2 linked regions of the Homo sapiens genome follow. The protein of the gene in region 2 purifies or fractionates together with the protein of the main gene of each other region. This does not show direct contact. Each region holds a gene or a part of one and is shown on either strand. Other genes may lie near its edges. The genes, in order: PAWR and PDXDC1.

What was found.
Region 1: the proteins of PDXDC1 (region 2) and PAWR fractionate together in Homo sapiens (co-fractionation; one large-scale study listed by BioGRID). This does not show direct contact.

The regions. Positions count from the first base shown.
Region 1 is NC_000012.12:79,621,296-79,625,114, forward strand, and holds part of PAWR (PRKC apoptosis WT1 regulator protein), read right to left. Parts: intron 1-3,819. UniProt on the Homo sapiens protein: Pro-apoptotic protein capable of selectively inducing apoptosis in cancer cells, sensitizing the cells to diverse apoptotic stimuli and causing regression of tumors in animal models.
Region 2 is NC_000016.10:15,026,896-15,030,714, forward strand, and holds part of PDXDC1 (pyridoxal-dependent decarboxylase domain-containing protein 1), read left to right. Parts: intron 1-1,982; coding exon 1,983-2,071; coding exon of another isoform or gene 2,072-2,137; exon of another isoform or gene 2,138-2,910; intron 2,911-3,055; coding exon 3,056-3,161; intron 3,162-3,819.

The sequences.
Region 1 (3,819 bases), on a different chromosome or scaffold from region 2:
ATATTTGTGCATTCAGAAATTAGTTTGCATAATAAAAGTATTTTTCTTTCAGCAATATGTACATTTAATTCCTATAAATTATCTGCTTAAAACTTGTACTTCCATATCCACACCACTGCCAACAAATCTTTTCCCTAAACTCCAAACATCAGTGACAGGGTTTTCTTAAAGGAAAGGTTTATTCATTCTTTATCATTCATTCAATAAGTAAACTACGTCTACCTTAAACAAGGCATTCTGCAGAAGGTAACAAAGGATGCATTAAAGAAATGGAATTTATAATCTAGTAGGAAAGATAATACATATATATAGATAGATAGATAACTTAGTGATAAAGGCCCAGTTTCTAGCTTTATATTCTATGAGCATATAAAGGAAGAGTATTTTTACCTGGAGAGTTAGAAAAGACTATAAAAAATCTTGTAATTTAAAGAATGGCTACAATTTGGAATTGCAGATATATAAAAAAAGAGAATTACACATGTAACAGCATATTGGAAAAGCTTACAAGAGAAGGCTGCTAAAAAACAGAAGCAACACTAGAAATTATCTAACTCTACACTTTCTACATAAGAAAAACAAAATAGAAACAAATCTCTATCCATTATACACATCATGGGCTGGGTTATCCGTTCCTTGCAACTGAATACATTCCTAACCAATACACTGCCCTAAAGGTTTCTGCATGAGAACTCACACCCCCTCCAGACAAAAACAAATAAACAAACAAAAACAAAAACAAAAAAAACCACACACCTCTTTGTAGAGACACTAAGGAACTGATCACAGCAAAGTATAACAGTATGGCAGTGAAGACAATAGGAATTGGACAAAAAAAAAAAGTTGTGCAGAGAGAAGAAAACACTGAAGCCATTGTGCAAACCAAGAAGGTGCACTGGAATATTTGGAGATAGGAGGAACATACTGAAAGGGGTACCAAGCTTGATAAAGACAAGGTCTACAATGGAGGACATGGAAGAAAGCATCTGTCTGAGATGGAGTGTTTTTTATTATTTTTTATTATTATTATACTTTAAGTTGTAGGGTACATGTGCACAATGTGCAGGTTTGTTACACATGTATACATGTGCCATGTTGGTGTGCTGCACCCGTTAACTCGTCATTTACATTAGGTGTATCTCCTAACGCTATCCCTCCCCTCTCCCCCAACCCCACGACAGGTCCCAGAGTGTGATGTTCCTCACCCTGTGTCCAAGTGTTCTCATTGTTCAATTCCCACCTACGAGTGAGAATATGCAGTGATTGGTTTTCTGTCCTTGTGATAGTTTGCTCAGAATGATGGTTTCTAGCTGAGATGGAGTCTTACAACATTAGGATGATACAGAGAAGTCTGAGGACAGAAATGGAAAGGGCAAATGAAAGGAGCATGCAGGTTGAGATTTGGTGTCACCTGGCCCTTGTCATATCAACCTGCCAAGAGTGGGGCTTGGGGAAACAGCACAAGAAAATTATGATACTGTAGCTACTGTTATTGCTGAGTCTAAACTGTTCTTGACTCTAACTAACCCAGGAGACTAGTATCTTTTGCCAGCATACACAAGCTAACGTGTTAGCCAGCAAGTGGGGTATGATCTCAAAGCCATTACAGTTTTTGACAAAAGTGAGGACTCGAAAGGCATAGAGGGAACATAAATAATAGATAACCCAAGAAGTTTAGACTTCTCACTCCATAGCTTGGAATGATGTTACAATGCTATACAGTTCCTTGGGATAAGGAATGATCAAAATTCTTTTTGGGAAGAACCTGGAAATAGCAATGCAGAGAACAGGAACAAGACCAAAAGTGAAAAGACTAGTTAAGTGACTAGTTAAATGACATAGGCAATTGTATCCTATGAAAAATGATATATCATAGGTGGAAACAGAGTCAGTGAAAGAAATCTGGTATGGGACACCAAAGTGTTAAGAAATTAGTCCTTATTAGAAAAAAAAAATCTCTCTCAGGACTTTCAAAAACTTTCTCAAATCACTAGACAATATCTTGTTTAATGACAACATACCAGCAAAATTTAAAGTAAAATCAGACTCAAGACATTGATGTCCACTATTAACATAATTGTTAACATCATTCTGAAAGTGCTAGTTGATAGAACTAGGTAAGAAGAATAGGCGATTTTAACATTAGAAAGGAGGCAAAATTACCATCAGAGGAAATGATTTTGTAAAAAACAAAAACATTTTAGAATTATGAGTTAAGATTTTTTTCAGTAAATAAGCAAAAAATTTCCCAAAGTAACATCAATAGCCAGTTACAAAATTTTTAGTAACAACCATTAAAAAACTAAAAAACAGTACGTGCATGAAAAAAGCTATAAGACTTTACTGAAGAATACAAATTAAAACCTGCTCTTAAGAAAAATCTAGTATTGTGAAGGTGTCAACAGTCTCTTAACACATAAATTAAAATTCCAATCAAAATCATGAAGAAATTTATTTGGAAAGTAGTGGTGCATCATCTGGAAGAAAAAATACATAAGATATCAAAAAAATTACTTTTTTAAAAAAGAGGTATGACCAAACACTCTAGTTAATGTTAAAATGTATAAAACTACAATAACAAAAATACCTGATAGAGGTCCTAGAACAGAAAGAATAAAATAGCATAAAAGGCATTTTAAATCAAGGAGTTGCTTTAAAAGGGGGAGGAGAGGTCAATCATTTAATGAACAGTAGGAGAAGCAAAAGTATGAGATCTGGAAAAGAATAAAGAATGGTCTCATCTCTAGTCTTCTACTGTGTGAAAGCAATCATCACTTATTCTCCAGCATATGGACTCAAAAATCCCTCACCTAGGCTCCAACATCATTAGCTTAAAGTTGGAATTCTTAAATTATCATAGATTAATATTAACAGAAAGCAAAAGTTGAGGCAGGTAGCCACGCACTCCCAGAGCACTGGGATGCTATTTTATTTGTCTTTGTTTTCATTTTCTGAGACCCAGCCCCACAACACTAACTTTCCCTCCTCCTGCCCCCTCAACTAGACTCCCTTACCAGTATATTAAAAGAAAAAAGAAAGGAAGAAACAAAACACTCGGTAAATGTTTCATAAAACAATGAATGAGTTACCAAGATGAGACAAATCATCTTGGAGATGAACTGGAAGGTGAACTGTGATACCTGAAGTTAAAATTCTGAATGCTCTTTCCCATGGCAACACTGCTATCCACTGAACTGGGAACCTATTCATCACACATAGTATCCCTGTGGATACAGTATGTATCTAACGTTCCAGGCAGCTTTTAGTATAGGATTACTTGATGAATCACAACTTCTCTCCAAAATTCTGCTAGCAACCAGTGCAGTTCTTTTGATAACAAGCATCCTAGAAATTCTTAAGCAATCTTTTCTAACTGGGATAAATACATCTGGAGGAAGAAGTTGGCGGAAATCATGAGAAATAAGAGAATTCCTGTATCTGCCATACTTAAGAGAAGTGGATTCTCCTCATTCCTTTCTTCAGCTGCATAATAATTTTATTAAATAGATGTACCTACCATATTTTAATCAGAGCTTTATTGATGAACATTTGGGTTTTTTACACGCTCTAAGAAAAATGTGTTAGAAAGGCTTATATATATAGTTTCTGTATATATGCAATGGATTTCCTGGATAGATTCTTAGTATTAGGATTGCTGGCTCACAAGGTAAATGAATATGTCAATTTGGCAGGTATTTCCAAATTCCACTCAATAGGGATTGTATCATTTTACATTTCCTTCAGTATGACATTACCTGTTCTCCCAATAGTTTTCATACTTTTGCAGTTTTTGCCAATATAATAATTGAAAAAAAGTAT
Region 2 (3,819 bases):
TGATTAAACCAGGGGTTCCCAAATGCCAGTCCCTGGACCAGTGCTGGAATGGCTAAGAAAGAGTTGCTTGAACATAAAGATTTGTGGGTCTTACTTCCCACATATTTTGAGTCAATAGGTTGTGCCCAGGAATCTGTATCTTAAAGAATGACCCAAGTGCCACCAGTCTAGTCCAGGGCACCACTCTTTTTTTACCTGGTTGGCCATTGTCCCCTGTCAACTGACCTCTGACTTTCATACATTCTACACAGCCCATTCCAGACCATTCTCCACCTGGCAGAGAGGGTTATAAGTGGAAGTCACATGGTGTTGAAACCGGAAAGGTTCCCTTGTCCCCCTCGCAGGGCATGTGATGGGGGTGTGGCTCGCTTCTTCAGTGCCCCGCTGCTGCTCAGACCTCTAGGAGAGCATACAGACGGGCAGGCTGTGGGGCTCCGACCCCATGGCAGCATCTGGGGGTGAATGTTTTACAGCTCCTAAGGCTCCAGCGGGCATGTGTTACAGTGTGCTCTTTTAATTTAGCCGTCTGTAGGCAGCTTGTTTTAGCTCACTTAGACCCCCTTCCTTATCACAAGGACAGAGGGATTAATGTATCCCAGGTTCTTGTCTTGGTGTACCGGAAGAATGGGATCACATGTGGGCTTGGAGAATGAGTGCAAGGTTTTATTGAATGAAAGTAGCTCTCCGCTGATGGGGGAGCCAGAAGGGAGACAGATTTCCCTTGGAGTTGGGCCGCTCAGCGGCCCTGGCCAAACTCCGCCTCGTCCCCGTGGTTGATGGCCTGCTGGCTTGCCGGGGCCTGTCGGGGTGCTCTTCTGCCGGCCTGCTCTCCATGACCAGCCGCTTGTGTCTTTTTCCACCAATGTGTTCCTCTGGCCATCCAGCCACTTCTGTCTGCCCACTAGGGTCTCAGGTTTTTATAGGCCCAGGATGGTGGTGTGGTGGGCCAGCGTGGTCTTGGGAAATGCAACATTTGGGGGAAGGCAGGAGTGCTTGTCCTCACCTAGGTCCGTGGGGGTAGAGTCCTAGCCAGGGACCCGCCTTTCTCTCCCCAGCACTTCCCTTCCCCGCTTCTGTGTCATTTAAAGGGACCACGCTCTTCCCTTCCCAGCACTCCCGTATCAGTGTCACTTCCCTGCCCAGAGCCCCTGGGTATCTTACCATTTCGGTCGAACAAAGGCCAGGCTCTCCCATGCCCCATGAGGCCTGCACACTCTGCCCCGAATTCGCTTCTGCCTTCCCCCCTTCCACTCTCCCTCTTGTTCGTTGTGCCTCAGTCAGACCAGTCTTCTCCGCGCTCCAGAACACTCTGCCCTTTCCTACCGCAAGGGCTTAACACTCGGCGTTCCCTCTGTCTTACACACATTTCTCTCTTCTGGTGCCAGCTCCTCCTCACCATTTCGGTCTCCACTAAGTATCCACATCCTCAGCCTTCCCTGCCTATCGTGCCTGAGGGGACTCCATCATTTTCTATCAGAGCCCCCAGCTTCACTTGTGACACTAACAACCACATGGAGTGATTTTCTTTCTTTATGGTCTGTTTCCTCAACTAAAATGTAAGCTCCAAGATGACAGAAACCTTACCTGCCTTCTGTCCCAAGTGTCGGGCTCTGTGCCTGGCACGGGTTGGCACCCACTGTGAGGCCTAGTTAGATGATCGTGGCACTCACAGACCTCGCACGGTGCTTGGTAAACTAGTTAGTAACTTAAAACAATTGCTGTTTCCCCTTGAAATCCCTTGAAAGCAAACCTTTTCAAAAATGAAATTAATAATTCTGTCTTATGTGAATGTATTCAAGTGTTACATAGATCACGAGGAAAAAGAAATGTAGCCCTTCTGTCAGATAATACATGAGAATTCAGTAATACGAGTCAGTGCCCTGGGGCTAATATTGGGATGGGAATGATGTGGGGTTTGGAGGGTGTTTTTTTTGGTCAGCCGTGTTTCTGGGAGTGACTCCCTTTCTGTGTTTTGGTGTCAGATCCGGTGTTTAAAGCCGTCCCAGTGCCCAACATGACACCTTCAGGAGTCGGCCGGGAGAGGCACTCGTGTGACGCGCTGAATCGCTGGGTGAGAATGGCAGTCACCCCCCTTTCCTTTCAGGTCCCCGTCCATCACCATCCGACCTGCTGGTGAGGGTGACGCGTGCTCGTGTATGGGAACTGAGGCCCACAGGAGGAGCCGCCCTGCCAGTGCTGGGCCTGCTCTGGAGTTCTGTTCCCCATTGCGTTACCACCTCACGAGCTGGGTCACCTCTGGCAAGTCCTTCTGGCATTGCTCCCTCACTTTCCTTGCTGCTGTATAAGGCTGTGAGACAACAGGCAAAAGGTGGGCTGCAGGGCAGCTGCGGTGGGTTCTGGTGAGCCTGGGCAGCACAGCCGGGAGCCCCAGGCAGAGTCTGCCGAGCATCTGCAGCTGGCAGTGTGGAGCCAGGCCTGCACTTTGATAGCGTTTTGGGCACTGAATAGCAGCTCTAGGATTTGAGTCTGAAGGGTCTTGTGAACAGTGTGGGATGGCGGCAGCAGCAGTTCTAGCCAATGCTGGACACGCCCAGCCTAGCAGGGTTGGCAGATAAGTCCTGGTACATCCATGCTGGGGCTCAGCACAGCTGTGAGAGACCACAGAGCTGAGTGTCTCAAGCAGAAAGGAACTGGTCATAAACGAAATGAATCAATGCAGGTTACTAAGCAGTGTCAAGTAGCATGTTTTATGACAACAACTACAACTCCCTGCCCGCCACTAGGAGAAAAGACGCTGGGGGCAGACCACATGTCAGCAGTGGGTGTCGCTTAGTAATATATTGTGGGTCATTGTTATTTTCTTCTTTTTGTTTACTTGTATTTCCTAAATTTTTCTACAATGAACTTGTATTAATAAGAAAAAACCATAAAATTTACTGTTTTTAAAAAGCTGCTCTAAGTAATCAGACAGTCAAAAGAGCAGGAATCAGCTCTCCAGGAGGCTCTTTGGTCTGGGGCCGAGGGGATGAGGGTGGGTCCTGAAGACGTCTGAGTCCCTTGTTACAGGAGGGTGTTCATTGTGTCCTCCTCACAGCTGGGAGAACAGCTGAAGCAGCTGGTGCCTGCAAGCGGCCTCACAGTCATGGATCTGGAAGCTGAGGGCACGTGTTTGCGGTTCAGCCCTTTGATGACCGCAGCAGGTAAACCAGGCTTGGTGGACATCCCTTGCTTTTGTTCTGGGGCTGCTGGGTAGATTAGCTTGCCCTTATGATACTCCATTCTCCTAGAGTTATTAGCAGCTCTTTTTGGAGGGGCATTTTCTTTTCTTTTGGGCTAAATTTAGGTAGATTAGCATTCCCATGTAACTTACCAGAATCAGAATGAGAATTCAGAAGTCACCTGAATTGGCCGGGCATGGTGGCTCACACCTGTAATCCCAGCACCTTGGGAGGCCAAGGCAGGCAGATCATCTGAGGTCAGGAGTTCGAGACCAGCCTGGCCAACATAGTGAAATCCCGCCCCTACTAAGAATACAAAAAATTAGCCAGGCATGGTGGTACACACCTGCAGTCCCAGCTACTTGGGAGGCTGAGGCAGGAGAATCACTTGAACCTGGGAGGCCGAGGTTGCAGTGAGCTGAGATTACACCACTGCACTCCAGCCTGGGGGACAGAGGAGACTCCATCTCAAAAAAAAAAAAAAAAAAAAAAAAAGTCATCACATGAATTCCTTTTTTGTTGTTGTTGAGACAGGGTCTTGCTCTGTCACCCAGGCTGGAGTGCAGTGGTGCGATCATGGCTCACTGCAGCCTTGACCTCCTGGGCTCAAGTGATCTTCCCACCTCAGCCCCCGAGGAGT